Regions from separate parts of the Homo sapiens genome. Here all the other regions are reported to be linked to region 2. Evidence: microRNA targets listed by miRTarBase, many of them from high-throughput screens and not tested one by one. Region 2 holds a microRNA gene; each other region holds the end of a gene's coding sequence.
Evidence for each region. The annotated mature microRNA hsa-miR-6868-3p reads UUCCUUCUGUUGUCUGUGCAG and lies in region 2 at 4,112-4,132, opposite strand. An mRNA with a match to its seed (bases 2 to 7 or 8) in the 3' UTR can be bound and repressed. Matches are read on the target gene's strand: a 7mer-m8 pairs with bases 2 to 8, a 7mer-A1 pairs with bases 2 to 7 and ends in A, and an 8mer does both.

Region 1: the mRNA of METTL24 is a reported target of hsa-miR-6868-3p. Seed matches in the 3' UTR shown: 7mer-m8 at 2,745-2,751.
Region 3: the mRNA of POFUT1 is a reported target of hsa-miR-6868-3p. Seed matches in the 3' UTR shown: 7mer-m8 at 5,542-5,548 and 7mer-m8 at 4,628-4,634.
Region 4: the mRNA of MAML2 is a reported target of hsa-miR-6868-3p. Seed matches in the 3' UTR shown: 7mer-A1 at 2,464-2,470.

Annotation. Positions count from the first base shown.
Region 1 is chr6:110,239,220-110,247,356 of GRCh38, reverse strand. It overlaps METTL24 (methyltransferase like 24), which reads left to right. Exons shown (of 5, transcript NM_001123364.3): 5 at 1,097-3,417. The coding sequence ends at 1,411. LOC105377937 (a long non-coding RNA gene) reads right to left here and starts at 3,287. Exons shown (of 2, transcript XR_942858.3): 1 at 3,215-3,287.
Region 2 is chr17:76,093,908-76,102,044 of GRCh38, forward strand. It overlaps MIR6868 (microRNA 6868), which reads right to left and starts at 4,169; the gene lies at 4,112-4,169. EXOC7 (exocyst complex component 7) reads right to left here. Exons shown (of 19, transcript NM_001013839.4): 3 at 7,772-7,956; 4 at 7,364-7,469; 5 at 3,889-4,111; 6 at 507-674.
Region 3 is chr20:32,233,594-32,241,730 of GRCh38, reverse strand. POFUT1 (protein O-fucosyltransferase 1) reads right to left here. Exons shown (of 7, transcript NM_015352.2): 7 at 3,073-7,258. The coding sequence ends at 7,070. MIR1825 (microRNA 1825) reads right to left here and starts at 3,936; the gene lies at 3,884-3,936.
Region 4 is chr11:95,972,202-95,980,338 of GRCh38, reverse strand. It overlaps MAML2 (mastermind like transcriptional coactivator 2), which reads left to right. Exons shown (of 5, transcript NM_032427.4): 5 at 376-3,741. The coding sequence ends at 1,391. Among named protein-coding and RNA genes, the nearest start is that of MTMR2, 52 kb to the right of the region's middle.

The DNA.
Region 1 (8,137 bases), not on the chromosome of region 2:
GCTCTGTAGACAGACTCTGTTCAGAGTTCATCACTGCCTCTCTAGCCATGTGACTGGGAATGGGTTCCTCACTGAGTCTGGTTTCCTGAACTTTAATTAGGGATACTCACAGAATCACCCTTACAGCATTATTGAGAGGATTAAATGGATATTGCAAGGGGAAGCCCTTAGCATGGTGTCAGGCACATATAACTACTTGGTAAAAATGAGCTTTCATTGTGTTTAGGGTTCTGGTGTTCTAACGGATTTTTTGCACAGGCAGCGAAAAGGAGCTGATTCTCATAACTTGATTAATTTGCAAAATATTGATATTACAATCCTCTTCTTCCTTTATTCTGTCTCACTTGAATGTGAACTTGTGTTCATTAAATAAGCAGAGGATGGTGTTACTGCTTTTTTTTTTTTTAAGAATGCTATACTGGTATATACATTGTAAAGAAATCATAGAATAATAATATTATTTTTTTATAGTCCAATATTCAGATACTCAATAACTTTTTCATTGATGTCCAGTCTCGATGAAGTTGGGGTTGGGGGGATGAGGCCTGCAAGATAGTCCCTGCAGGCAGTAGCCCTTTGTCACTTCCTTTCTATAGACACCTTCTGTCAGGACTTGGCAGAGTTTCCTGGGGTGGCATAGTTTGTGGGGTACACAGAGGTCTGTGATACACTCACTCTAACTTCTCCTTCTCAGATATCCATTCCCACTGGGCAGAAAGCAAGAGGGTCTGTTGTGATTTTTGCCTGGTATTTCATCATTTGTATATTAACATATATTAACATAACAGGCTCACGCCTGTAGTCCCAGCTACTCAGGAGGCGGAGGCAGGAGGATTGCTTGAACCAGGAGTTTTATACCAGCCTAGGCAACATATCGAGACCCCCATCTCTTAAAAACAAGAACAAAAAACCAAAACATTTAGTAGGGAATGGGGTTAGAAATTCATGTCATAAATGCAAATGGCCACTTGAAAACCACCCTCAGCTCTAAAATTTTAAAAATTCTGTTTCCTTCAGAGGTAGCTATAATGTGAAACTCCTGATATCAAGATAGTTTTACTAAATCTGCTAATCTCATTTCATTGCTTTGTTACAGATTGACGTTCTCAAGGCAGATCTGGAAAGTGCAGAATGGAAAGTTTTGGAAAATCTTATTCTGGAAGATGTTCTTGAGCAGATTGGACAGCTCATCTTTGAGATCCATCTCCACTGGCCTGGGTTTGAGGTCAGTGGCAGTGACAGCAGCGTTGTGCGGTTCTGGTACAGCCTTCTCAAAGAGTTAGAACAAAAGGATTTCAGGCTTTTTCACAGTTACAAAGACTTATCTAAACCTCAGCTATTCTTGAAGAAAGACATTTTCAATGCAAGTAGCTGTTATACTCTGAGTTGGGTGAATACAAGATGGAAATAGGATGCAGGATGTCATCAAGAGCACAAGAAAATATTTGCAGAATGCAGCATGTCCATAATTCTAATCATGAGTTTACTCATCCAGTCTCCTGCTAGCCTGTGCCCTGCTTGAGGCAGGGAGTGTGTTATTGCGGGCATGCAGCCTAGTGCTTGGCATGTGATGGGGCACAGTCAATACTTGTTAAAGGGATAAACACAGTCACCCCTATTTGCCCAGACTCTTCCTTCACCTTAACTTGGAAGATTATCCCCAGCTCATCACAGTTTTCCCTAAAATTCTCTATGTATCTATAATCTATGAATTCACCAACATTGAAATGAAATTATATAAATTTCCTATTTTTACTAGGTTGGTGAGATTTTTAAGTTCTTCCCCTACTGTTTAAAATAGGGTTTTAAATTTGAATTTGACCCTCCTTTTTCAAGGTTTTTCTTATTTACCTTGTTAATGATATTCTTTACAACCTTGTAGATTTCAGTCATTCCTTCTCAGCCTTTGCTGAGGCCATGCTGTGGCTTTCTAAGCAGCAATACTTCTGATTTCTGGGAACTCGGATGCACCAAATTCTGTCACTGAGTTAAAGAGACTAGACTATCAAGAGCTTCAACACGAAGGTGTAAGTTCCAGTTCGAGACCAAGTCTGAAGGTCTTGACCTCACCAAGACCCATGTCCCAGCTTGAAGACAGCCAGACAGAGAATTAATTCTTCCTTACTGCCTTAGGTTCTATTCAGGCCTTCAACTGGTTGAATGAGGTCCACTTACACTGAGGTGAAGAATCTGATTTATTTAGTCTACTGATTTAAATATTAATTTCATCTGGAAATATCCTTACAGATACACCTAGAATAATGTTTAACTAAAGATCTGGACACCCTTTAGTCCAGTTAAGTTGACACATAAAATTAACCATTGTAGGTAGGTAGGTAGATAAATAGATAGATGATAGATAGATAGATAGATAGATAGATAGATAAGATAGATTTTCCTACTGGCATGTTTCACCATTTTCTTGACTCACATATTCTGGTTTCCATCTGGCTCCTTCGGTCTGTGCTCTCCTCACTGAAGTAAGGCCTTTAATGATTACTTCATTATAAGTCCATGAGTAATATGGTTTGGCTACGTCCCCAACCAAATCTCATCTTGAATTGTAGTTCCCATAATCCCCACGTGTTGTGGGAGGGACCTGGTGAGAGGTAATTGAATCATGGGGTTGGTTTCCTCCATGCTATTCTCATGATACTGAGTAAGTTCTCATGAGATCTGATGGTTTTATAAGAGGTGTCCCCCTTCACTTGGCTCTCATTTTTCTCCTTCCTGCTGCCATATGAAGAAGGATGTGTTTGCTTCCCCTTCCACCACGACTGTAAGTTTCCTGAGGCCTCGCCAGCCATGCTAAACTGTGAGTCAATTAAATCTCTTTCCTCTATAAATTACTCAGTCTCAGGTATATCTTCATAGCAGTGTGAGAATGGACTAATACTTTGGGTATTACACTTTTTAGATTTTACGTATTTGAAAAAGCACTTGCTTTTTATACCTGAATAAAGTTTATTTGTTCACAGAAAAAAAAAAGAGCTTCAACTCAAGATGCTTTTTATACTCAGCCTTAATTCCCCTTCACTTCCTATTAAACTAAGCACAGAGCAGAATCTGGGTATCTTTGCTGTTGCCTCTTCTGCCTTCAAACATGATTTACCACCCACAGACTTGCCTATGCTGTCAAATCTTTTTTAAAAAAATACATTATCTCTAATAATGTTAAGTGCATTTTTCTTTACTCCCAGTTGGCATCACTTACATGATTGTGGCCTGAAGACCATCGTCTCACTTTCGTAGGATAGTTAGACAGTTTTTCAATAGCACCGATCCTTTCTACATTAAAAGTTAAGTGGAAAGTTTAGGTTCTCAGCGGTTCAAATGCTCTCTCTCATTACTATTTACAGGATTAAACACGTGCATAATTTTCTAAAATTCTATTTCAAATAAATAGCATAAAAACCACATTATTACTTTATTGTCAATTAAATATATTTTTTGGCATTTTTATATCCTGAGTATAAAACTGTATGTACATTGCTCAAAAACTGGGGGGAGAGAGTAGAATGCCGATTATTACTAGACTTTACCCCTTTTCCCAATTTGTACTTCCTTCTACCCTCAGACATTCCCCAGGTTAGCTCTTTGTTTCTTGAAGTGGTTTGAAAATGCCATTCCTCAAGTGAGAAATCAAATCGTCTTAGACTTGGATGACCTCACTAGCTTGAGTTGAAAAGAGAACAGGACTTTCTGAGTTAGTTGTGATAATTAAAAAATATATACACATGAGCTTTTTATTTTAAAACTCATAGTCCACTAATAAAAGTTGTTGAGCTGAGAGGACTGGCTTGAGTAAGTGTGATCTGAAAAGGCAGTTTAGTCATTTCAATGTACAGAGGTATTTCAAATGTGCAGAAGGGTCCACACACACTCTAAATTGGTTTATACTGTTAGTTATATGGTGTCATCTCCAAAGCAAAGCTAACTTTAGCCCAGTTCTGTTTGGATTATATAACAGATTTATTTTCATAAAATGTTTATATACTGAAATATATAAACATTTTTATACATTAAAGTGTAGAAAGTGTATTCATCTTAAATGTCCAGTCTGATCAGCTTTTAGATATGTAGCACACCCATATTAAGATTTTTAATTCGTGGAATTGGAGATTTAGGGTATTACTGAAAGCCCCTTTGTCTACGGCAAGTTAACTATTTATTTCAGGTTGGTGGTGTTGAGCATTGACTTCATCATGCTATATGTACCTGAAGCATGAATGAATGTACTGTTAAAAAAGAATATATCATGAACACATCCAGCCACGCTGATTGACCAGGCAGCCTGTTTAATAGTTATCCATACTTATTTTATGCTTATTTCTAAAATGGTCCTTCATTCTCTTCATGTATAGTTTCAAATTTGTGATGAATATACTGATGGTTGTTAAGGTTTTCCTGCCTCTAGAGTTTATTATGTTTATCATAAATAAACATAATAAATTTCTTAACCTCAGCACTATTGCCATTTGGGCTGGATAATTCTTTACCGGGGGAGGGCTGTTCTGTGCATTGTAGGATATGTCCCCGAGGGGGCAAGATCACCCACTGTGGAGAACTACTGGTGCAGGCCATGAGAAGAGGACCAGGCTACTATAGCACTGTTTACTTGTGAACAGGCAAACACAAGATCCTCTTATGAGGAACGGGCAAAACCATAATCATCACCACCACAACCACCACAAGAGCAACACAAACAACACATAACAAACAAACAAAACCAAGAGTTACTCTTTACTGAGAGCTAACTGTCTGCCGGACCATGTGCATAGCTTATTCCTAATTCTCACAACAAGGAAGTTTATTTTTTTCCAACATCATGAGTAAAGAAATTCTGAGAGAGGCCGGGCGCAGTGGCTCATGCCTGTAATCCCAGCACTTTGGGAGGCCGAGGCGGGCAGATCACGAGGTCGGGAGATCGAGACCATCCTGGCTAACACGTTGAAACCCTGTCTTTACTAAAAATACAAAAAATTAGTGGGCGTGGTGGCATGTGCCTGCAGTCCCAGCTACTCGGGTGGCTGAGGCAGGAGAATTGCTTGAATCTGGGAGGTGGAGGTTGCAGTAAGCCAAGATTGCGCCACTGCACTCCAGTCTGGGCGACAGAGAGAGACTCCATCTCAAAAAAAAAAGAAAAGGAAACTCTGAGAGGTTAAATGGCTTATTCAGATTACTCAAGTTGTAGATGGAGGAACAGTCATTTACATTTTGGTCTGTCAGATCCCAAAAAGCTGGTGTTTGGTCCCATCCACAATGCAGCTTCCAAAGCCTGTACCAAACGTAAGATGCTTTGTCCAAAGGACTCATTTTTGCCTCCCTATTAGTAAAACGGGAGTAGGGGGAAACTACAAATAGAAAAGGCCTGCAAGTTTGAGTCAGAATTATTTTGTAGCATGCAGGTTTGCTGGACTTAAATCATCTACTTGATTAAAGTATGCCTGCCAAATGGAAGCTTACTGAAGAAATATGGAGACCCAACAACTTCTCTGTCAATATATTTAGGTTGCCAGAAAAGCTCTTGCAGGCCTGGAAATGACTCTTCTTCTGGCTTGTCCCAGTACTTGTCACTTCCCTCCTGGGTTTTAGAAATGGCAGTCACTTGGAGTTGCTTAAGCAAAGTAATTCTCCTTTGCTTAAAACTAGTCTTTGACTTGCAGATAAATGAGCTAAGATGTGAATATCTGTGACATGCATCTCTTAACATTTTTACTAGAGCAGTGTTCATAAATGATTCTGAAAATACACATTTGATAATGCTTTTATCAAATGAGTAACAATGCTCTTTTGTAGGTGTAAGGCATATGAGGATGAAAGAGATTCACAAGTTGCCTTTTAGCATAAACTCTGTATCATAATTTGTTAAAGAAAAACAATTTTCCCCTTCTTTTCTTACAGTGCTTGTATTTGATGCAGCTATAATATAAAAGGTTATCATATAAATATTTGTAACTATTTGACATGTTCAAATGAAGAACCAGGGAGAAGTGAACAAATTTCTACTAGAATTGACTGAAGGTCCAAATTTACCTCAGGATAGGGCATAAACAAACTCACGGGTTTACAGTGTTTAGTCCAAATCAGTTATTCATGTAAGCATTTCTGCCTTAGTTATAAGATCTTTTAGTAAGTATAAGAATTGCATTTTTTAAGCATTAAATGTTTAGATTTTGCAAAGCTTGGGTTAGTCCCAGGAAGCCAGGCTTACCATATTTTGCTAGTGTAAAAATGATGACTTCATTGGCCGGGCGTGGTGGCTCACGCCTGTAATCCCAGCACTTTGGGAGGCCGAGGTGGGCGGATCATGAGGTCAGGAGATCGAGACCATCCTGGGTAACACAGTGAAACCCTATCTCTACTAAAAATACAAAAAAATTAGCCGGGCATGATGGCTACTTGGGAGGCTAAGGCAGGAAAATGGCGTCAATCTGGGAGGCGGAGCTTGCAGTGAGCCAAGATCACGCCACTGCACTCTAGCCTGGGCGACAGAGCGAGACTCCGTCTCAAAAAAAAAAAAACAAAAACAAAAGACCTCATTTAAATAGATCATTCTACTTAACAATACAACAGTACCTCCAAGCTCAATTAGTGTAATTGTTCTTTTCTGGTGGAGATAAATTTATGTTTGATTCTTAAGCAGTAACATAATTCATTTTGTACTAGCCAATTGCTGATACTTTGTGGATTCAATAATACATTTAACCTTATGCTAAAATGTCTTACTTTTTCTTACATTGAAAGAGGTGCCTGAACTTATGAGATAAAATCATAACCCAAAGATTCAATATATTCTTAGAACTGCTTACATTTAGAGATTATTGAAATTCTTTAAATGACTTGATTATATTTCTTAAGAAATATAAATCAAGCATTCTTAATGCTGTCACACTTTATAACTATATGGAGGCTGGGTGCAGTGCCATGTGCCTGTACTTCCAGCTACATGGGAGGATCACTGGAGTCCAGGAGTTTGAGATCAGCCTGGGCACCACAGGACTCCATCTCAAAAAAAAAAAAGAACCGTGTGGAAAAATGGTTTCCAACACATTAAAATTTAATGCTTTCTTAAAACCAGCAACTTATTTTCTCAGACTATTTTAACTTTTTCTTAGTGATTAGTTTTGTACAATATGGCTATCTGAAATAATAAGGGATTTAAACTTGGGAGATCGAATTTGACTAAACTATTCAAGACTAGACTAGAGAATTTCAATAGAGAAACCAAGTGTGCATAGGACTGATATCTAATCAGTATGTACCAGTAGAGAAGAGCTATGTGCAACATGGTGATTATAGTTAATAGCAATGTATCATATACTGGAAAATTGCTGAGAGAGTAGATTTTAAATATTCTCACCACAAAAAATAAGTATTTGAGGTAATGGATGTGTTAATTAGTTGATTTAGTATTCCACAATGTATACATATAACAAAATATCATGTTGTGTGCCATAAATATATACAATTTGTTTGTCAACTAAAAAGTATGTCCCTTGGAATACACTGGACATATTTATGCTTTTTTGAAAAGTACCAGTAGAGATACAGTGGTTCCCCAGTGGTCCCTCTGCACTGGAGACCCTCTCACAGGATGCCCAGGCCTTTCCCCATGACTGGGCAATTAAAGGCTAATGCACAGCACAAAAGGCAGCTTCCAGGATCCTGACACAGCACTGTGGCTTGCTTCTATTCTAACTGGCCTATCTTCTGCCTTACTTGTCATTGGATATTTTGAATATCACTCCTGGGTGGATCTATATAATAAATAAAGGTCCAAGTGTGTTCTATAACATGAGAAACTGCAACTATGTGTCAATAAAAATTATCAGTACAAGAAAATATTATTTCTCAAGGTTTGATGTCAGATCAAACATCATTTTCTCAGGGACCCCTCTTATTTAAGGCTCCCAGCTATATGTCCCCACAATGTCCTCTATTCTTCCTAACAGTGTCTGTACTTTCTCTGCTTGTATAATGTCTGGTTTTCCCAGCAGACTGTATGCTCCATGAGGATAAGGGCCATGTCTACAGCCCCAGTGGCTAAGTAAAAAGGGCTCAATAAATTTTTGTTGAATATAAATTTAAAAAGCTATTTCCATATAATTTTTCTAAAAAATTATTTCATCATTTG
Region 2 (8,137 bases):
TTCTTCCGAGAGGATGCTCTGGGGTTTCTTTCCTTTCTGGATCAACTGGGAAAGTGAAATTCTCCCCATCCAGCTCTCAGCTACACGTCACTTCAGATCACCCTGCCTTTCTGGAAGGTGAAGGTTGGAGCACCTATCCCCTTGCTATCCCAGCATCCTGGCTGCAGTAGTGTGCCTGGCCTTCTGACAGGGCGACGTGTGTGTGAGGGAGGAGGCCTAGGCAGGGGCTCTGCCTCAGGCGGGATTCGCTGAGCACCTGTGTTACTCCCCTACTCCAAAGAAGCTGTGTAACCCCAGGCTCTGCTAGCTGGAAGGAAGAGTCTTGCTCTTGGGGGGCTTCACTGGGTGGGTAGACACTTGCTTTCTGTCCTGTGTACCTACAGTCGGGGTTACCACGACGACAAGCTCTGGAGGGGCCTGACGCTGCGAACGCTAGATTGGACTAAAGCAGTACAGTCCCAGTCAGCCTCTGGCTGTTGCAGAGATGGGCCAGGATGGGGGCTCACCTGGCCGCTTGACTGGCTTCTTGGTAGGTGTGTCTTTCCTCTTGTTGGGGATAGCAGGGGAGTAGGGAACCCCAGAGGAAGAACTGCTCTTATGGAAATGCTCCTTCAGTCCTTTGATGGAGCGGTCCAGCTGGCTGGAGCGTATCTGGTAGTAGACGTTCATGAAATCTGAGGAGACACAGAGGGATAGAGGTACGGCTGCCAGGCCCTGTCTCTGCCTTGCAGACCCACCATGTCTACCTGTCAAACCTGTCAACCCTTCTTAGCATCTGCTCCCTGCTCTGGTCACAAGCCACCCATATCTTGTCCCAAATCAGGCAAAGTCTTTCAAAGTCTTTTTTTTTTTTTTTGAGATAGGGTCTTGCTCTGTTGCCCAGGCTGCAGTGCAGTGGCACGATGTCAGCTCACTGCAGGCTCGACCTCCTGGGCTCAAGTAATCTGACCACTTCAGCCTCCCAGAGTGCTGGGATTACAGGCGTGAGTCACCATGCCTGGCCAGGCAGTCTTAAAAGAGAAAAACACCCTCTGATAGAACTGATAATTAGTTGTAAGTTGTTTTTTTTTTGAGACAAGGTCTTACTCTGTCGCCCAGGCTGGAGTGCAGTGGTGTGATCTTGGCTCACCGCAAACTCTGCCTCCCAGGCTCAACCAATTATCTTGCCTCAGACTCTTGAATAGCTGGGATTACAGGCATGAGCCACTACCACCCAGCTAATTTTTGTATTTTTAGTAGAGATGGGGTTTCACCATGTTGGCCAGGCTGGTTTTGAACTCCTGACCTCAAATGATTCACCAGCTTCAGCCTCCCAAAGTGCTGGGATTACAGGCATGAGCCACCGCCCAGCCCTAGTTGTAAGCTTTTTTTTTTTTTTGAGACAGAGTTTCATTCTTGTCATCCAGGCTGGAATACAATGGCACGATCTTGGCTCACTGCAACCTCTGCCTCCCGGGTTAAAGTGATTCTCCCGCCTCAGCCTCCCAAGTAGCTGGGATTACAGGCATGAGCCATGGCGCCCAGCCCTAGTTGTAAGTTTTAAATAGTACTTTTTTTTAAATAAAAAAACAAAGTTAATATCCAGATTCAACTTGGTAAGGGGTCAAAGAACATGAGCTCTATAGGAAGCAAAAAGACAACAAATGTCAGTGAATGAAAAACACACATCTTTAGCCATTAATAAAGTATAAATTAAAAAAATTAGAGGACTGTGATAGTCCTATCAGATAGCAAAAACAAAAATTAATGAAGAACAAATGGCCATGGAACTGTCGATGAGTCCATCGATTGGCCTGATCTATTTAGAGAGGAGCTAGTGATGGCAAGAAGGTTACAAGTATCTTCAGACACTTACACCTAATCCCTGCACCCTTGAGAATAAACCCTCAAGAACTTCCTCAAAGAAAAAAGCAATTCACAAAGGTATGTCCATTTTGGTACCATTCATCAATGCTGAAAAACAGGAAGAGCTCCTTGCACACATGACTGAGGAAAAGGACATGAAAACTATGGTGGATTTCAGAAGTTCCCAACAAATAGTTTACAAGGAACCCCGACAGAAGAAATGAACCAAAACACAGAGGCACAGGCTGAGAGGTCTGGAGGCTGTCCACTGCGCCTCCCTCTTGATCCTAAGGAGCTCCTGAAAATCTTCTGCCGAGCTGTCATCAGCTCACGAGCCACAACGTGTTCATGTGATCAGATACATCGCGGCCGTGAGACCTGCCGCCACACAGTTCTGGGGCAAGGCAAGCCCGCGCTGACAACTTGGTATGTGTACACACAAACAAAGAGAAGAGTTGGAGGGCTAAAAAGTGCAACATTGCCAGGCGAGGTGGCTCATGCCTGCAATCCCAGAACTTACAGAGGCCGAGGCAGGTGGATCACCTGAGGTCAGGAGTTCAAAACCAGCCTGGGCAACATGGTGAAACCCTGTCCCTACCAAAAAATACAAAAATTAGCTGGGCATGGTGGCGGGCACCTGTAACCCCAGCTACTTGGGAGGCTGAGGCAGAATTGCTTGAACCCAGGAGGCAGAGGTTGCGGTGAGCCAATATCATGCCACTGCACTCCAGCGTGGGTGACAGAGCGAGACTCTGTCTCAAAAAAAAAAAAAAAAAAAAAAGTGCAACACTGAATATCTATTGGAGTTTTTCTTTCTTCCTTTCTTTTTTTTGAGATGGAGTTTTGCTCTTGTTGCCCAGGCTGGAGCGCAATAGTGCACTCTCACTGTAACCTCTCGGGTTCAAGAGATTCTCTTGCCTCAGCCTCAGTAATAGCTGGGATTACAGGCATGCGCCACCACGCCCAGCTAATTTTGTATTTTTAGTAGAGATGGGGTTTCTCTATGTTGGTCAGGCTGGTCTTGAACTTCTGACCTCAGGTGATCCGCCCACCTTGGCCCCCCAAAGTGCTGGGATTACAGGCATGAGCCACTGCACCTGGCCTTCTTTCTTTTGAGACAAGAGTCTCACTTTGTCAACCAGGCTGGAGTACAGTGGCGTGATCTTAGCTCATTGCAACCTCCACCTCCCAGGCTCAAGTCATTCCCCGCCACCTCAGCCTCCCAAGTAGCTGGCTCTGCAGGCATGCGTCACCACACCCAGCTAATTTTTTTATTTTTTGTAGAGACAGGGTTTTGCCATGTTGGCCAGGTCTCGAACTCCTGAGCTGAAGCGATCCACTCACCTCAGCCTCCCAAACTGTTAGGATTACAGGCATAGCCACAGCACCTGGCATAAATAAACCTTAATAGTGCTCATCTTTGGCTTATGTAATGGAGGCATCAGGGAATGGGAGATGGACTTTTACTTTTCACCCATGGCTTTGAAAATTTTACAACTAATCAAAAAAGGCAAAGGAACATAAAAATCAAGACAAGAAAAGTTTGAATTTGCCTAGATTCACCACTTGATATACAAGTCATAGAATGGTTGCTTATATTCTTATATTGGTTCCAGTTAAACATCCTTTTATCAAAAAAACCATGACAGGTGGATTAAAGAATAAAGGGGGCCAGGCATGGTGGCTCACATCTGTAATCCCAGCACTTTGGGAGGCTGAGGTGGGCAGATCACCTGAGGTCAGAAGTTCAAGACCAGCCTGGCCAACATGGTGAAACCCCATCTCTACTAACAATACAAAACTTAGCCAGGCATGGTGGCATGCGCCAGTAATCCCAGCTACTCGGGAGGCTGAGGCAGGAGAATCGCTGGAACCCGGGTATGCAGAGGCTGCAGCAAGCCGAGTTGCACCATTGCACTCCAGCATGGGCAACAGAGCAAGACTCCATCTCAAAAAAAAAAAAAAAAAAAAAAAAAAAAGAACAAAGGGGAGAAAACTCCCTCTGCCTCTGGTGTGTCATGTGGCCAAGCCAGAATCCCTTACCTTGGTTGCGGCCATATTCCACCAGCCAGCGGGAGATGCGAATGACATCCTGGAGCACGCTCTCGGGCAGGTGCTCCAGGGTCACGTCCTCCTGGGCCTCCAGATCATCGTCACCACTGATCAGATCCAAGATGAGCACGGGCGAGACGACCTTACTGTGCCGCGTCATCAGGCTGCGAAATTCGGACTCCAGGGCCTCCTTCCCGCGCTCAAAGAGCAGTTTCTGCACAGACAACAGAAGGAAGCAGGTGCCTGCTGCTTCAGTGTTCTGCCAGTCCTGGCCTTCCCCTGCCTGTGCCAGCTCTGTCTTCTTAACTCAGGGCCTCTGCCCTTTTCTGCCCTGATATCTTTTTTTTTTTTGAGAGGGAGTCTCGCTCTGTCACCAGGCTGGAGTGCAGTGACACAATCTTGGCTCACTGCAACCTCCGACTTCCTGGTTCAAGCAATTCTCCTGCCTCAGCCTCCTGAGCAGCTGGGATTACAGGCACGTGCCACCATGCCCAGATAATTTTTGTATTTTTAGTAGAGACGGGGTTTCACCATGTTGGCAGGATGGTCTTGATCTCCTGACCTCAGGTGATCCACCCGCCTCAGCCTCCCAAAGTGCTGGGATTACAGGCATGAGCCACTGCACCTGGCCTGCCCTGATATCCTTTAACCCAAAGAAGAAACGCTGGGAAGCGGCCTTGGTGACTCCTTTACTTCATGTTCTCTCAAAATTTGTGTTTACAGGTAAAACCCAGGGTTTTACAAGAAGTAGGTGCTTAATAAATACTGGCTGATTGGCCGTGCACGGTGGCTCACGCCTGTAATCCCAGCACTTTGGGAGGCCGAGGCGGGCAGATCACAAGGTCAGGAGATCGAGACCATCCTGGCTAACAAGGTGAAACTCCATCTCTACTAAAAATACAAAAAAAAAAATTAGCCGGGCGTGGTGGTGGGCACCTGTAGTCCCAGCTACTCGGGAGGCTGAGGCAGGAGAAAGGTGTGAACCCAGGAGGCGGAGCTTGCAGTGAGCCAAGATTGCGTCACTGCACTCCAGCCTGGGTAACAGAGTGAGACTCCGTCTCAAAAAAAAAAAAAAAAAAATACTGGCCGATTATTTTCTCACTGAACCGTTAATTTGTCTTCTTGTTAGTGGGGGGTTTGCAAAAGAAAATAAATAAATAAATTGAACAATATCAAGTTGAAAACTTTTGTGCTGCAAATGATACCACCAACAAAGTGAGGATAACCCACAGAATGAGAGAAAATATTTGTAAACTATGTATCTGATAAAAGACAGGTATCCCAAACATAAAAGAGAATGAATCTGTCCACACGATGACATATATAAGAGGGTTTATAGCAGCATTATTCACAAGAGACAAAAATTGGAAACAACCCAAGTGTCCATCAAAGGATAAATGGCTAAAGAAAATGTGGTCTGGCTGGGCACGGTGGCTTACGCCTGTAATCCCAGCACTTTGGGAGGCCGAGGCAAGCAGATCACCTGAGGTCAGGAGTTCAAGACCAGCCTGGCCAACATGGTGAAACCCCGTTTCTACTAAAAATACAAAAAATTAGCTCGGTGTGGTGGCAGGCACCTATAATCCCAGCTACTCGGGAGGCTGGGACAGGAGAATCGCTTGAACCCAGGAGGTGGAGGTTGCAGTGAGCCAAGATTGCGCCATTGTACTCCAGCCCGGGCAACAAGAGCATAACTCCGTCTCAAAAAACAAAACAAAACAAAAAACCAAAAAAAGAAACTGTGGTCTATCCACAAAAAGGAATATCATATGGCATGAAAATGAAATGAAGTACTGATACATGCTATAGCATGGATTGATCTTGAAAGCATCACGCTAAGTGAAAGAGGCCAGTCACAAAAGGCCATGTATTATAAGATACCATTTATATTAGAAATTCAGAATAGGCAAATCCATAAAGACAGAAAATAGATTTGTGATTTCCAGAGGCCAAGTCACCATCTTGCTCTGATGATCTAATGACCCCAAAACTTAAACACAAAAATATGATGAAGGCAGGTACAGTGGGTAATGCCCGTAATCCCTCCCAACACTTTGAGAGGCCAAGGTGGGAGGATCACCTGAGGACAGTAGTTTGAGACCAGCCTGAACAACACAGGAGACCTCATCTCTACAAAAAATTTAAAACTTAGCTGGGTATGGTTGCACATGCCTGTGGGCCCAGCTACTTGGAAGGCTGAGGTGGGAAGACTGCCTGAGCCCAGGAGTTCGAGGCTGCAGTAGCTATGGTTGTACCACTGCAGTCTGGCCTAGATGACAAAGCCAGATCCTGTCTCTTAAGATAATAATGCAAAAAAAAAAATCACATAGATTCAAGTTCCTAGAGTAGATTCACAGAAACAGAAAGTGGAATGGTGGTTACCAGAAGACAGAGGAAGGGAGAATGGGAAATTAGTGTTTGATGGGAGTGGAGTTTCACTTGGAGAAGATGAACATATTTGTGGAGATAATGGTGATGGCTACATAACATTGTGAATCTACTTAATGCCACTGTTAACTTAGAGTTAAAATAGCACATTTTGGCCAGGCACGGTGGCTCACACCTGTAATCCCAGCACCTTGGGAGCTGAGGCGGGCGGATCACCTGAGGTCAGAAGTTTGTGACCAAACTGGCTAACATGGTGAAATCCCGTTTCTACTAAAACTACAAAAAAAAAAAAAAATTAGCCGAGAGTGGTGGCGCACACCCTCCCAGCTACTCAGGAGGCTGAGGCAGGGGAATCACTTGAACCTCGGAGGCAGAGGTTGCAGTGAGCCGAGATCGTGCCATTGCACTCCAGCTTGGGAAACAAGAGCAAAACTCCATCTCAAAAAAAAAAAAAATTTATATTATGTATTTTTAACCAAAATAAAGGAACAACAAATGCATTTATAAAAATCAAACGTGGCTGGGTGCAATGGCTCACGCCTGTAATCCCAGGCCAAGGCGGGGGATCATCTGAGGTCAGGAGTTCGAGACCAGTCTGGCCAACATGGCGAAACCCCGTCTCTACTAAAAATACAAAAATTAGCCAGGTGCGGTGGCGAGTGCCTGTAATCCCAGCTACTTGGGAGGCTGAGGTGGGAGAATCACATGGACCTGGGAGGCAGAGGTTGCAGTGAGCTGAGCACTGTACTCCAGCTTGGGTGACAGAGCAAGACTCTGTCTCAGGAAAAAACAACAACAACAACAACAACAACAACAAATCAAATGTTAAGTTTATATTTTATATGTAATTTATAATTTAATTTTTATAATACATTAACAAGTTTTATAATAAAGAATTTTTAATAATAAAAAATGTGCAATTCTTGAAGCAGAGATCCTAATGCCTATAGGATGTACTGTGCTATATCCTTCTGTGTATTCTACTGCATACATCCTCAAGCTGGCTCCATGTCCCTCATGAGACCAGGGCAGAGACTGATATCCCCAAGCTTCTCACGTTATTCTGCGGACCCCTTACCACTTTGTTGAGTTCCGGGCTGTCTGGGCTGTTGTCCTGGAAATACTCCACTGCCTTCTGAATCTTGGCCATGCTTCCCAGGTACTCTTCCAGCCTACCTGTGGGGCTGGGAAAGAAAAGAGCCAGGTCAGGCTGGGGCATGGGGGATGAAGAAGGACTAAGGACACAGTATTTGGGAAAAAGAAAATTAATACAGGGGACTCCAGGCTCAAATATATTCTATCCCCCCACTGCCTTTTAAGGCCTAGGGCTTAAAAGGCGTCTCACTGTGTTGTCCAGACTGGTCTTGAACTCCTAGTCTCAAGCGATCCTCCCACCTCAGCCTCCCAAATTGTTGGGATTACAGACCAACCCTCCTGTTGGCCCAGGAGGCATTAGGAATTGACCCTCTGGGCCTCACTCACTCACCCCTCTCTGATGATCTTCTCAGTGTCACTGGCCACATGGTAGTAGCTGATGACATGGTCCAGGCAGGACAGCGTCTTCTCAACATTCTCCTGCAGCCGCTGCAGATTCTCCGTCTGCTTGTGCACAGGGATGATGGAGTTCTCCAGCTTCATAAGGCGGCTCTCAAAGGATGATAAGATAGACACCTGCGGGAGGGAAGCCTCTTGATCTTGGGACTCACAGTGGTCCCAGCACTGCTTCTACACACCCACCTTCGGCATTTCCTGCCTTTTCTCTGGTTTTCTAGACAATAAACTCCACAAGCGAAGGAACAGGGTGTACCTGTTCCCCACTGTATCTTCAGCACCTATCATGTGCCTGGCATAT
Region 3 (8,137 bases), not on the chromosome of region 2:
CCTCTTGGGCTCAAGTGATCCTCCCACCTCAGCCTCCTGAGTAGCTGGAACCATAGGCACTTGCCACCATGCCTGGCTAATTTTTTGACTTTTGGTAGAGATGGAGGGGGGGGCGGGTCTCACTTTGTTGCTCAGGGTGGTCTCGAACTCCTGGGCTCAAGCGATCCACCTGCCTCAGCCTCCCAAACTGCTGGGATTACAGGCGTGGGCCACTGTGCCCAGCCCATGTTACTTATTATTACAATTTCAAGGTTCTATGGGAGCTCAGAAAAGGAGAATTTCATAGAATCTTGAAACATTTACGATATGTTTTAAGCAGAGCAAAAGCTTAGACAATAGTGCGGAGGTGTGAAAAGTGAGGAGAGTTTCTCTCACAAAAGCCCCTTGGGTATTGTTTTGAGCTATCTTCAGGGGCCAGCCGAGTAAGGATCTCCCAAACTTTATCTTCATAATTCATGCCACACCATCTACTTAATACTTTTTCTCTGAACCAACTCACTTTTTGTAACCTAAGTTTCTTAAAAGGAAACTTTAAATCACATCTTTAAACAGAAAAACACAAGTACAAAGGATCAAAAATAAATAAAATGGCAGGGCACGGTGGCTCACTGTAATCCCAGCACTTTGGGAAGCTGAGGCAGGAGGATCCCTTGAGGCCAGGAGTTCGAGACCAGCCTGGGCAACACAGCGAAACCCCATCTGTACTAAAAATACAAAAGTTAGCTGGTGCAGTGGTGCGTGCCTGTGATCCCAGCTGCTTGGGAGGCTGAGGTGAAAGAATGGCTTGAGCCTGGGAGGTTGAGGCTGCAGTGAGCCAAGATCAAGCCACTGTACTCCATCCTGGGCAAGAGTGAGAACCTGTCTCAATAAATAAATAAATAAATAAATAAATAATTCATTTATTTACTTAGTAATAGTGTTACTAAATTCCAGAAAACTAAGATTGTCTGACTCTGAGGTCTACTCTGTTACAAGGACAGATTATTAGCAAGCAGTAGAGAGGAGTTAATGACACAATAGCACTGAACTGAGACTTTCTCTTTGGGCATTGTTAGCAGGATTGAGAAAAACTGAAAAGATAATTCTTGCCTTCTGCCAGTGCCTGCCCAGGACCTCCTAAACCAGCTTGTGCAGTGTCAGAGAGGGGAAAACATCCCCCACACTGGAGGAGATGAATATCAAATGGATCAATGTGTTGCCAATTTTTTTGCAAAGGTGGATTTTTCAGAGGGGTGGGGTATCCTCCCCGGGGTGCTGCCCCCAGGTGGGCATTGTTCTGAGTCACTGCACTTGAGGAATGGGGTTTCTGGGAAATGCCTTCTGTTTCTTCCATTCTCACTGTTTACCTGGTTATGCTTGGCATCCTGGGCTGATGATCAATAAAGGATTAGATGTAAAAACAAACCAAACCTGCTTGCCCTTAAATAATGTTATTTCAAGGGAAAGGTCTCAACCCTGAAATAAACCAGGTTTCAAGCAAGAATTTGAATTCACTTTGACAACATAATCCAGAGTGCAGGATTTGCCTTCAGGCTATGGGTTTTTTCTGTCAATTCCACTAAGGACAGAAGGAGAACTGAGGAGAGGAAGGATCTTTATTTTCAGGCCAGTGAAAGCTTATTATTATTTTTGTTGTAGTTACTATTAATAGATTATTTGCTGAGCTTCTTTGAACAGAAAATAGAAATGAGAACTCAACTCTTTCTTCCTCCCTCTGTCCTTTCTCCTCTTTCTTCTTTATTTTCTTATTCTCTCTCCCCTCCCTTCCAAATGTCTGGAGATCTACAATGTTTCAGGACAGTGTTTCCAGCTTTGGTTCCTTTGAACACCAGCTTCTCCATTTCTCTATCCAATCAGATGCAGATTTTGAAAAATGGAATTCCCTTTTAATTTTGAAAAATTGAATTCCCTTTTTTTTTTCCTCTCTTTTGAGACAGGGTCCCACTCCAATGTCCAGGCTGGAGTGCAGTGGTGCCATCACAGCTCACTGTAGCCTCGACCTCCTCCTGGGCTCAAGTGATCCTCCCACCTCAGCCTCCCGAGTAGCTGGGACTACAGATGCATGCCACATGCCTGGCTAATTTTTGCATTTTTTTGTAGAGACGGGGTTTCCCTATGTTACCCAGACTGGTCTCGAACTCCTGGGCTCAAGCGATTGGCCTGTGTCAACCTCCCAAAATGCTAGGATGATGGGAGTGAGCCACTGCGCCCAGGCTTCCCTTCCTTTTCTTATATATAAATTTGGGCTGACCGTAAAACAATGAGATTTGATCATCTGGTTGTAAAGCCCCTACAAATATACAATAGGAGATGTAGGTCAGTACAAACTGGGCAGCAGGCAGTTCCTAAAGCCACCTTGTTGACCATGCCTGGTGGAACCCGTGAGGCTTGCCAGGGAGGGGCTGCAGAGGTCTTCCATTACCGTGGGCTGAATGACCACACAGTGAGATCCCCACTTCCTTCAGATCAGTGTTGCTCAAGTTTTAGCCCCAAGAGAGCTTAAGAGATTCCTGGGCTGCGTCCCCAGAGATCCTGACTCAGTGGTTCTGGGCGGGGGCCTGGGATTCTGCATTTCTAGCAAGTTCCCCCAGGTGATGCTGATGCCGCTGGTCTGACGACCACAGTTTCAGGTCTTGGGCCACTGGGCATCCAAATCACTTGCAGGTGCTTGTGAAAAGGCAGATTCCTGGGCACTACCCCCGAGACATTCTGATTCTCAGGTTCAGGGTGGCTCCTGGGAATCTGCCATATCAACCAGCCCTGGAAGGAACCTCTGAAGACCACCCTTTGGGAAGCACTGCCTAGACCATTAGCACCTGTAATGCTGAGGTGAGGAATGCGGAGGTGAAGGGATTTGCTTCAAGGTCACTCTGCAAGTCAGGGACAACTCCCTGGTGCCTGGGCCCTAAATCTTGGAGCACCCTGGGCTCCTCTTTCCTTCCCAGTCCACATTCAGCATGTCAGCAAATCCTGTTGGCTCTTCTTTCAAAACACATTTAGGTTTTCTTGAAGACTCTAGCAAACAGACTTGGGTGTGGGAGAGTCAATGCAACTAGACTGGTAAAATGTGGGTCATTGTTGAAACTGTGAGTTCATTTTATTACTCACAATTTTTTATTTATATTTGAATTCTTCCATAACAAAAAGTTTTAAGTGTTTGATCTAACAAATTCACTTCTGGGAATTTATCTTAAACAACTTTTTTTTTTTGCTTCCCGTCCAACAACTTTATTAATGAACATTTTAAATAAAGAAAAACTCTTACAAATAAAAATATTTTTTCAAATAACAATAGTGAAAAATTGGGGGCACATGAAGTCTCCTTTTTTTTGAGATGGAGTCTCGCTCTGTTGCCCAGGCTGGAATGCAGTGGCACCATCTCGGCTCACTGCAACCTCCACCTCCCAGGTTCAAGCCATTCTCCTGCCTCAGCCTCCCAAGCAGCTGGGAATACAGGCATGTGCCACCACGCCTGGCTATTATTATTATTTTTTTGTATTTTTAGTAGAGATAATTCACCATGTTGGCCAGGCTGGTCTTGAACTCCTCACCTCAAGTGATCTGCCCACCTCGGCCTCGCAAAGTGCTGGGATTACAGGCATGAGCCACCACACTTGGCCTAAATTCTCATAATAGGAAAACAATAAACTATGGAACACTCCTCGACAGAATTTTTTATAATTAAGAGCATTTATCCAGGCTACATACCAACAGGGAAAACATGATACACTATTAAGTAAAACACTAGGACATTAAATTGTATATATTACATGATTAAAACTATGTAAATATTTGTATCTTTGAAAAAGACTGAAAAATAATTACATATGTTCAGAATCTAATCATTTCCCACCTCCTTCAATGCAATGGCCTTTGTCTCTTGGGAGAGGAGGGCACTGGAGTCCTAGTCTAGGGGAGCCCAGCACCCCAGTCTCTCGCCTGCAACCCTGTTAACAGCCCTGCACTGGTCTCTCTGCTTTCACCCTTTCTCTCTCCAACCTCCTCAGCACTGGCCAGCTAGAGAGGTCCTTCAGAATGTGAATCAGCTCATGCCCCTCTTCTGCTCAGAACCCTAGGAGGCTTCCTGTATCTCTCCAACTAAAAGCTTCCTGCCATGGCCGTCCAGGCTGCAGAATGTCAGCTCGCCTGCTCTGACCTGCTGCTCGGTTCCCTGCCTATGCCTGCCTCTCCAGCCATGCTGGCCTCCTGGCTGCTCTTCAGGAACACACTCCAGTCTCGGGGCCTTTGCACGTGCTGTTTTCTCTGCCAGGAATGTGCTCCCTCCCTCCTTCATGACAGCTCTTCAGAGAGGTCTTACCTGGGCTCATCTAAAATAGATCCACTCCCTCTTTTTGCTCCCAAACCCTTTATATTTCTTTATAGCACTTATTAACATGTCCCACAGTACATTTATTACATCTTCTACTTTCTAGAATGCAAATTCCTTGAGAACAAAGACTTTACGCTTGATTCTCTCCTGTATCCCCAGTACCTAGCATAGAGCCTGACACATAGTAGGTGATGAACAAACACCTGCTGAATGCAAGACTGTTGTACTGAGCAACCATCCAACGGGGGCTGTAAGCGGCATGTAGGCTTTGTTTCTTGGGTAACCTCCCCTCCTTAATCCTTCTGGCATAGGCAGACTCACAGCAGGTACCCAGTAGAAGGTAAGGTGGCTGATCATTTTTCCATAGGAGGTCTCCATGGCACACAGGGTAGAAAGTGCATTCTGTGAATTAGAGGCAGCAGAGCATGGCAGCTAATGGAAACTGGCTCTGGGAGGTCAAATTCTGGCTTAACACCACCAGCTGGGCAGCCTTGGGAAAATTATGACAATTCTCAGGGCATTAATTTTTCCTTGTGCAGAAAGAGAAGGATAATGACAGCTCCTATTTCCCAGGGCTGGGGAATAAATAAGAGAATGCCCCCATAAAGCAATTAGCAAGCACAGTGCCTGGCATGGAGGTGACGAGCAACGAGAAGCAGTCAAATTAATCAACAGCCACATTTGTGCCTTTGTCTCTTTCAAGTTTACAACGTGCTCTTATATACATGCTTTAGCTGATCTGGGCCTTTGAACAACCTGTCGGTTTTTATCACCATTTTATAGGTAAGAAAATTGGGTCAGAGGAAAAAGTGCTAGCTCACAGAACACAACTGAATTTTGCTAGAACTTCTGGTGCCCTTTCTTTCAGAACACAAGTGATTATTACTGCTGATATGAATCAAGGTGATTTGGAGCTGGGCATGCAGTCTCAGCTACCAGAGAGGCTGAGGCAGAAGGATCGCTTGAGCCTGGGAGATCAAGGCTGCAGTAAGCCATGATCATGCCACTGCACTCCAGCCTGGGAGACAGAGCAAGGCCCTGTCTTGGGGGGAAAAAAAATTAGGCGGGCCCCACTGGAGCCCCAGACTCTAAAGTGTGTGCCTAGTGTAAGGCTGTGGATGGCAAATGAATTCCAAAATGAAATCAGCCAGCCAGCTACAGGCTTACAACCTAGTGGTGGCAGGGAGTGTACGGGCTCCCTCATCTGCAGCTCCTTCTCTGGATGAGGCTTGAGAGCAAGTCTGGACAGGCAAACCATCTCTCAGTCCACCCAGGACTTAAAACACTTCATTGTTTTCCCAAAAGGGAAAAATAGCAAAGCCCTTTCTGTACAGTTTCTCCTGCTTAGAGTTGGGTGGCAGCTCTATACAGCAAATGCTGACTTTGCTGTTTGAGATCTTTGATACAGTGTGACCTCTGAGCTCTGAACCAGGCTGCCCCTGACAAAAAAAGTGTTTCCTCCCACAGGTAAACAAGGAAGAAGGCACTGCAAGGAGCTCTGGGCCTGGCTCAGTGGAGGCTCTGCCACCTTTCCAGGATCAAAGGCCAAGGGAGGTGACATGGCAAGGAAAAGATCTACAGGGGTCAGACAAGGAATTTTAGAACCACAAGGTCAAAAAACCATGGGCTCTCAGGAGTCACAGATTATTAAAACTGCAGCATTTGAGACCAAAACACTCATGACTTAGAGCACCTTAAGCCTCATGGTGTTGGCAGAGATTACATTGGAAGGGAAGAGTCAAAAGGTGCTTCTCCACTGATAATTCTGATGGCTTCTGGGCCCTGGGCATCTTCTGTGAGGTCAGAGCCTTGGCAAACGTTCCCTCGTGAGAATACGGCCTGAAGGCTCCAGCTGCAGGAGGACGGCTGGGAGAACAGGCTTTGGATATCAACCGAATGCCAACATTCTACCAACCAGGCCCCACTGGGGCAAGAGATCAGAAGAGATCTGATGGTGCCAGGTTTGCAGTGGCCATCAACCACCAAAAGACTGTGAGAACAATACCATGATAGTGTGGCTTGATGGTATGTGCTCCTTGCCAGGAACATGCTGCGTGAGTGGCACTTAGTCGCCCACAGAGCGCTGCACAGCACCACAACCGATAACTTCCATTTGCATAGTGTTTACAGCACAGGACAGCATTCATCCCCCAAGCCCCAGAAATGGCCTAGGAAGTAGGGGACAACAATGGCTCTGGCCAGGCAGTGGGGATGGCTCTTGAGGGCCACATTGGGGGACACCTTGAAAAGCAGCCAAAAGACCCACACCAGCCCCAGCCTCATCCACATTCAGTTAAGGTCACTTTAGGTACCTACATTAATAGAATTCAATGATTTTCAAAAACCACAGAGAGTTCTAGGATAGTCATGACCTTGTATCAAAATTATAGAAATCTCTCTATAAAAAAATCTCTCTGAAGAGTTCAGCATCCCAGGCTGCTCAGAGCAGAGTGGACCAGAAGACGGAGGCTGGACTGCTTTGCCAGTGTGAGAAATTCCCAGAAGAGCAGAAAGCACGTGCGATGGGAGATGCTCCTGCTCCTAGGAACCTGCAAGTCCTATGCCCTGGGATATGGAGCGTCTCCCTCCTTGAGGGGTCCCTGGCACTCTTCTCCATCTTTGGCAGGTGAGAAGAGGAGTTTGCAATCCCGGAGCACCTCTGGCTGCCAGGCCTGGCTGGAAGGACCAGCTCAGACTCTGGTCCCTCCAGGATCAGAGGGTCTGGTGCTCCGGCCAGAATCAGAACTCGTCCCGCAGCTTAGGGGGCCTGTCCATGCCGAAGAAAGAAGACGGCCTCCCCTGGAGGTCCCGCTCCCGCTTCACAAAGGCAGTGAAGGAGGAGACACAGTTGCCAATAAAGTGGTCGGCTTGGCCGAGGATGTACAGGTCGACCTGGGCCACCTCAGGCTTCAGGCTCACCACCTTCACCTGCAGGAAGAAGCACAGAGCATATAAGCTGGGGTGGCTACAGGCCAAGGCCTGCCATCCACACCCCCAACCTTATTCCCTGAGCTGCAGTTACAGACACAAAAGGAGGGGCAGAGAAGAGGAAGATGTGGTTCAGTGTCTGAGGGAAGCATTGCCCAGCTGCTGCCTAGGCCCACCCCACCCTTCCGGGCTCCAGGAGCCTCAGCTCCAAACACACCATTCACACCTTCATGTCTTCACTTGTGCTGTTCCCTCTGCCTGGAATGCTGCTTCAACACCCATTAAAATACCGACCAGACTCTTTTATTTTATTAATTTTTTGAGATGGGCTTTTGCTATACTGCCCAGGTGGGTCTTAACCTCCCAGGCTCAAGCAATCTCCCACCTCAGCCTCCCAAGTAGCTGGGACTACAAGTGTGCACCACCACACGTGGTTAATTTAAAACAATTTTTTTAGAGGAGGAGTCTTGCTATGTTGCTCAGGCTGGTCTTGAACTCTGAGATTCAAGTGATCCTCCTGCCTCAGCCTCCCAAATAGCTGGGATTACAGGTGTGAGCCACTGTGCTTGGCCTGACCAGACTCTTAAGGCTAAGCTCAAATTCTATTTTTCCTAAAGCCCTGGCCTGGTGGACTTCCCCACCAAACCAGAGAGGGGAACAGAGAGCTCCACACCTTCCAATTCTGGGCTGGATGCCTCCATCTCCCATGTACCCCAAATCCAAGCCCAAGGTCCGTCCAATCTACCCCTGAGATATTCCCCAAAGGTGAGCCCTTCTCTTGAGGGAGGGCCACTCCTTGGGCCCAATCATCACAATCTCTTGCCTGATGGACTGCAACAGCCTCTCCCTGGTCCCCTCACTGCCTCTCCTGGTCTGCTC
Region 4 (8,137 bases), not on the chromosome of region 2:
GATTTCATGAGAGCTGACTAATCAAGACTGTAGTCTCTGGACTTGGAACATAGTAAAGCTAATTCAAAATGGAAGATTGACTATTACCTCCCTTCAATGACTTCAGAAGAGGAATAAAATAAAACCTACAAGATAGAACTATTCTATTTTAGTCTTCTTTTTGTAATATGTAAACTTCTGAACCAAAAAGTGACCTCAGGTGCTCCTTCCTCCTAAGAGCTGTCTTGTTCCTTTTATATAATTTATTTGATCATTATTTCGCCTAAATTGTCTTACACCTGAAAGCAGTTTCAGATTGATGAGTTATTGAAAAGTGCAGTTACAGAGGAGATAACATGCTGCTACGAACTAATAAAATTCTCTTCTTTTTCTCAGGTGGCTCATCCACAATAAGCTTAAACTCTAACCAGGCTTTGGCAAACCCAGTTTCAACACACACCATTTTAACTCCCAATTCCAGCCTCCTGTCTACTTCTCACGGGACAAGAATGCCATCATTATCTACAGCAGTTCAGAATATGGGGATGTATGGAAATCTGCCTTGTAATCAACCTAACACATACAGTGTCACTTCAGGAATGAATCAATTGACCCAACAGAGAAACCCAAAGCAATTGTTAGCAAATCAAAACAACCCTATGATGCCACGGCCACCTACCTTAGGGCCAAGTAATAATAACAATGTAGCCACTTTTGGAGCTGGATCTGTTGGTAATTCACAACAATTGAGACCAAATTTAACCCATAGTATGGCAAGCATGCCACCACAGAGAACATCAAACGTAATGATCACATCCAACACAACTGCACCAAACTGGGCCTCTCAAGAAGGAACAAGCAAACAGCAAGAAGCCCTGACGTCTGCAGGAGTCCGCTTCCCCACAGGTACACCTGCAGCCTATACCCCAAATCAGTCACTGCAACAGGCAGTAGGTAGCCAGCAATTTTCCCAGAGGGCAGTGGCTCCTCCTAACCAGTTAACACCAGCAGTGCAAATGAGACCCATGAACCAAATGAGCCAAACACTAAATGGGCAAACCATGGGTCCCCTCAGGGGTCTGAATCTCAGACCCAATCAGCTAAGCACACAGATTTTGCCTAATTTGAATCAGTCAGGAACAGGGTTGAATCAGTCGAGGACGGGCATCAACCAGCCACCATCCCTGACGCCCAGCAATTTTCCTTCACCCAACCAAAGTTCCAGGGCTTTTCAAGGAACTGACCACAGCAGTGACTTAGCTTTTGACTTCCTCAGCCAACAAAATGATAACATGGGCCCTGCCCTAAACAGTGATGCTGATTTCATTGATTCTTTATTGAAGACAGAGCCTGGTAATGATGACTGGATGAAAGACATCAATCTTGATGAAATCTTGGGGAACAATTCCTAAAGAAGAAAGGGAAGACAATTTACAAACTCCAAGCACTAAAAGGCAGTATATTACAGAAACTCTGTAGAGGCTGAACTGTTGATGTTCAGGTGGACTACATGAAGATAACATGCTTAAAAATGGAAAGCAGAAAGTAACTGCAGTGATGAACATTTTGGTCCAAATTCTTGTTTTAAATCTTACACCTGAAAGTAAAATATTGGGATCACTTTTCCCTGTCTAAACTCCAGGATACAGTATCCAATTTATCCAAACAGAACTGTGGTGTCAATGTGTAATTAATTGTGTAAAATAGCCTTCCCAAGTTTCTTTTTCCCTGGAAAATAAAAAAGGTAATAGAACTTGTAGTTTATTTAAACCCCATGTCATGAGGAGGTACTAGTTCCAAGCAACAAACTCCTTAATTTGCTCTAATAGATAGGTATGGTTTAATCTTTCCATTGTGTCTTTTCATTTAATTTTCCTGAAGCTTGCAGGATAGATTGAAATGTTATAGGTTTGTTTGGAGTAACCAAACAGTATGCAAATTAAGAAAAAGCCAGAGAACCTAGAAAACATCCAGTGGATTACAGAATTTCTTCCCCATATTCACTCCTCACTTTTACAATTTTCCCACAATCCTCTACTTCAGTGGGATGCTGTGTCTAGTGATTAAACAAAAATATAGAGCTGTGCAATTTGATTTTGGCTTCCACAACGAATATCTGAATCCATTCCAAATGAAATTTTAGATATAACAAAGACTTGTCCTAATCATACTGAAATATTGGTGCACACCTCTCTGCATTAGATTTCACTTTTTTAAAAAACCCAGTGGACATTGCTATAAATAAGATTTATTTGGCTACAAATAACCTGGGATGTTGCTTATTATGATTGATGCCTGCTGGTTTGTTCCCAAGCTGAGTGAAATTGAACCTCGTCCTCCCTACTCATTTTGATGACTGAGGCTGGTTTATAAGAAAAGGAAGTTTGGAGAAGAAAACCGAGATTAGAAAATATCATGTTTTGGTTGGAGATAAGAACCAGGGATGGCAAGTACCAGTGTGTACAAATGTATTTCACGGAGTTTGAAGGAACGCATAATCAAGAGGGAAAACAATTTGTCCTTCATTGGACGTATTATTTGGATTTGGGTGAGCAACAAAATGGAATGTGGTCTGTTAGGAGCATTCTGTTTGTTCTTTTGTCCCTGATGTGATGAATCATTGCCACATGCTAGATGGACTCTTCATATCCAGGTTTTGTCCCTCAGGGCTGAGCACTGTATTAAAGAGTTTTTGTTGAGTCATTTAACCTTAGTGTCCACATCCAGATCAGCTGTAAAATGGGGAAGACGTGTGCTGATTTGGAATGAATGCAAAATATCACTATCATTTTCCTAATTACAGAGGAGCAAAGGTTATCTTCAGCCCTTTCAGTTCTATGCTCACATATTCAAATATCAAATGTAATTTAGCTGAAGTTATTTAATAATCAAGTCTTTCAATATCTGTTCAAAGAAAAAGAACACACTTTGAAAATTCTGCAAAGCTGTCTCCCAGTCTTTAAAATGTCTGGAAGCACTCTCCTTCTTTACAATACCAACATCACTGGCCCAGAATCTTCCCTGTGCTAGTTTGTAAATATAAATAAATTACTTGTTTTGTAAACTTTTGTAAAGAATATTTTGGTAGAAATACTTCAAACATATTCTTTGGGTTATATTTATACATATGTGAAATAAATATACTATCAAAAGGTTATATTTTATACAAAAAGTAAATTGCTACCTTTTGTATGCTAATATGCAAAGTTTTGTATAATATGATGGTTTATTTTTAGCTCTACACTTAAACCATAGGTGGTTGAGTGGGAACTTTTGAAAACTATCAAGAGGCTTGTTAGACAAATTTATATTCTGAAACCTCAATAAGAAAGCATTCCAGGTTTCAATCCTTGTTTTTTGTCCTGCTCCCAAATTCTTTTTTAAACCCATAGTTCTTGTGTCTTATTTGATTCTTCTGCTGTGCACATTGTATTGGTCCTTGTTGCATGTAGTCTACTGTGTGTTTTCCGATTTTATAAGGCAGCATTTCTCCATACAAAAAGAAAAAAAATGATGTACATATAAACGCTTTTGTTGTATGGCTCCTCCATGTTACTGTATATATCTGCCAGCACTTCCCAGTTACACTCCTGTGAGTCAGCTTATTTTTACCCTAACATAAATAGTATGTTTTGTAGTAGTTATCAAATTTAAGAGATAAAGCAATCAGAATGTTTGGATTTTCTTCTATCTTAATGTGAATTTCATAATTAATGTCTATTTATTCAGCTATTCATTAAAATACAGGATTCTTTGGGAAAACATGATGTGTAGTCTGTAGTTTGTTTGTTAGCAGCCTATTACCAAAGGTGACATAATTTTCCTGAAAGCAGAGATAATGACAATTTGATAGACATATTTAGCTAAAACCTTAAGATTTACAACTTAAGAGCTATTGGAATACAATCTGCCATTTTTAGAAATACCAGACCACTTAATTGTTGGCATTGTTTATCATCCTGACATAGAGAGGAGGTAGAAGCAATTTTTCTTTTTTGTTTTAAGTCAAAGACTAGAAAGCAGTTTAAGCAAGTAATTCGGTCTTGGCTTTGTATTAAGCCCTATGAAGATAAATAACTCTGCTCTAAGTGAATGCGCTAATGTTACCTGCATTACTGTAAACGTACCATAACGGTAAAGATTTCAACTTGTAAAACAAGTATGTTGTATTGCGTATAATTTCATGTGTAAAAAACTGTTTAAAAAAATTCAGAAGTAGGCCAGGCGTGATGGCTCACGCCTGTAATCCCAGCATTTTGGGAGGCCAAGGCGGGTGGATAACGAGGTCAAGAGATCGAGACCATCCTGATCAACATGGTGAAACCTCATCTCTACTAAAAATACAAAGAATTAGCCAGGTGTGGTGGTGGGAGCCTGTAGTCCCAGCTCCTCGAGAGGCTGAGGCAGGAAAATCACTTGAACCCGGGAGGCGGAGGTTGCAGTGAGCCCAGATTGCGCCACTGCACTCCAGCCTGGCAACAGAGCGAGACTCCATCTCAAAAAAAAAAAAAAAAAAATTCAGAAATCGTTATCCTGTATGAAATCATACTTTCAGTTATCAACAATATTGTTGCTTCATTATACAAAGTTCTGAAAACTATTCATAATAATGGGTACTTAAAGGCAAGTTTAGTCTCTCGGAAGCTTCTGAACGAGTGAAATGTTGACTTGTCACAGTGTTCTTTAGTTGACTTAAAAAGTTTGTATTAACATTCTATATGCATGGCATCTACTAAATACTAGGGAAATACAACCTAATTCGCAGGCACTGTGGGCATTTGCCTGGCCTGCTGTGTGGCATTTGGTCAGACCGGCTAGTGAACACAGGCTAGGTAAACACAGCCCGACTGGACATATTTACACAGCCCTTCTTGAGAGTCAAGGAGGTTGAGAGTAAGATGGGTCTTTAGAGGAGGCAAGAAGAACCATTCCAAATTCTCCTGCACTGCTGTCTAAATATGTTGTTAAGCTCTCATTATCCCTTTCCCCTCTACTAAAAAAGTATGTGACATTGTCTTTGTTATTAGCATTATTAATAAACCAATAATGAAATTATAATGAAATTGAAAATTTTTTTTTTGAGATGGAGTCTAGCTCTGTCGCCCAGTCTGGAGTGCAGTGGCGTGATCTCTGCTCACTGCAAGCTCCATCTCCCAGTTTCATGCCATTCTCCTGCCTCAGCCTCCCAAGTAGCTGGGACCACAGGCACCCGCCACCACACCCGGCTAATTTTTTGTATTCTTAGTAGAGATGGGGTTTCACCGTGTTAGCCAGGATGGTCTCGATCTCCTGACCTCATGATCTACCCCCCTTGGCCTCCCAAAGTGTTGGGATTACAGGCATGAGCCATTGCACCCAGCCTGAAATTCACATTTTTATATAGTCCCTATTCTAATGAGCCTGGAAGGTCAGATAGGAAATAAAATCCACATTTTAAAAAAATAAATAATGTATATACAGATTAAGAGAAAAATGTGTAATTACAAAATTATCTATGAACCCCATTGTGTAGCCATGGAAGTAGAACTGAGAGTGGAAAAGTAAGTACGAAAGAGAGAAAAGCTCAGCTCCTTCCCAACCTTTAGTTGCCAAAGGCTGTTCAAATTGTTAACCATTTTATCCACAATTTCTCTTTTACATTTCTGTGACTGTTTTTGCACCCCAAAAAAAAGGGTTTGGGGCTGAAATAACACTATTCCCTTTCAACTCTAAAACCCTGTGTTAGATTTTCTTCCAAAACTAAGTAGAAAATTAGCCAAAAAAAGACTCATTAGCATCCTTTCTAAAATAAAGAAATTTTATTTTAGGAGAAAATCAGTACTTTGAGTAATATACTCCATTGGGTATATATTAATGAACTTCTGTGATTTGTAAATGGCAGTGTAACAGCTTCTAATATCCTTAAGTTCCTGTTCTCGTGCTGCTATAAAGATACTACCTGAGACTGGGTAATTTATAAAGAAAAGAGGCTTAATTGACTCACAGTGCTGTATGGCTGGGAGGCCTCAGGAAACTTACGATCATGGTGGAAGGCAAATGGGGAAGCAGATACGTCTTATGTGATGGCAGGAGAGAAAATGCACAGTGGAAATTGCCATTTTTAAACCATCAGATCTCATGTGAACTCCTGCACTATCACAAGAACAGCATGGCGGAACCACCCCATGATCCAATCACCTCCCACCAGGTCCCTCTCAACACATGGAGATTACTATTTGAGATGAGATTTGGGTAGGGACACAGAGCCAAATATCATAGATGAAGTACCAGGAGTGTCCTAGGATCAGCTTCATTGGCAGCAATAAAATAACTAAAACCTTGTACCATGAGAATTAAGAAAACATATTGACCTTAGATTTTTAAAATCAAAATGCTGTTGCTTAGGTTTTTAAAACCAAAATGCTGATCTGCATGCAATAATATAAATAGAGAGCTTCTGTTTGTTTACATAAATAGCATCTTAAATTCCCTTTTATCAAATGTAAGTCATCTTCAGCTCTAGGATGTGCAAGAATATACAAATGCTTTCTACAATACTTAGGATTCTTTCAGCAAAAGGGAAGGAGGAAGGGTAGGAAAGAGAAAATAATATATACAATACTGCATACATATATAGAAACTTCTTTTGGGGTTCTTTCAGCAAAAAGAGGATAGAAGGATGGGAGAAAGGATGGAAAGAAAACATGTCTCCAACAGGCTTAGAAAAAAGAATGTACTGCTTAACATAACTAAAACTTCTGGGAGATATTTAGTTTAGGTATGGCTGTATACAGCAGCTCAACAATGTCAAGAATTGGTTCCTTTATGTCTCTCGCCTTTGCTTCCCTGTGTCTTGTCTCCATCCTTGGGCATGCCCTTCTCTTATATTGGCAAAGTGGTTGACAACCTCCAGATTTAACATCCTCATAAGTCCATGTTCAGCATAAACAGAGTGAATGTTTTCCTTTCAAAAGACCTAACTGTGTGTCTCATAGACTTTAATTAGGGTGTGTGCCCATCCCTGAACAATCACTTTGGCCAAGGAGGTACAGTGTACTGATTGGCCAGGCCTGAATCAAATGTCTATCCCTGTAGGCAGAAGTAGTATTAATACCACCGAAACCAAATGGGCTGAGGGTGAGAAAGGGGTAATTTCTCAAAGGAAAATCAGGTTGTTATTGTCAGGGAAAAAAATAAATAAATACAAGAAACCGATGTAAAAAAAAAAAAACCTCACAAATATTTACTACCTTTTTCTGGCTGCCCTTTTTTTCATACACACTGTATTCCCCATATCTTAAATTACAAAATCTCACTAATAATCCAAACACACTCACCTTCTTCCTATAGAGAGACAATCTAAATCTCATCTGTTTGCTGCATTCACCTCTTAGACCAGCACAGCTAGGTGAGGTAAACTCTTTTGCCAAGTGAAGACAGACCAGCAACCTAAGCCCAAAAGATGTTTATTCACCTCCAGTGTATACAATAAACATTCAGTGTGGAAAGAGAAGAGGATAATGGTAAGGATGAGTTCTACTTGGAAGAGAAACTAAAATGTATAGATAACATCTTAAGAGTAAAAATTATTTTGCCCTTGAGCTTTTGAATCAACAGCTTGGGGGAGAAGAGACATAAAAACTTTCTTCTGTCCTCAGGATGCATGCCAGTTGCATTTTACATTGAGAATAATTGTCTCTTTCCTCAGAGAGTATATTATATAAGGTGCTTGGGAGGGGCCTAGAGAATCAGAATTCTCTCTGGTCCCAGTCATATCTCCTGCTAACATCCCTATCTCTCTGACTTAGTATACAATAACTTTAGCTTAGGATTGAGAATTCAACATTCTTTAAAAAGTCTCAACTGATTTCTAATTAGAGAAATGAAAACCAATTCAAATATTTCATGTGTCAGGGAGATTTTAATGCAAGGAATTGGTTGCACAGGTGATAGACAGCAGAGATGCCAAATAGAGAAAGGTGAGAACCATTTAGAGATGAACAAAAGCAAGAAGCCACTACAGCTTCTAGGATGCAAGGGCAAAAATACAAGGAGCCAGGATCACTAAGCAGATGCTGCAACATTGGCTGGCCTGTCTGGTAGGAGCCAGATCCAGGGAGAAGTTTCAGCTGTTAATGGAAACATCACTTACGACAGAGAGGGAGGAGAAGGAATACAA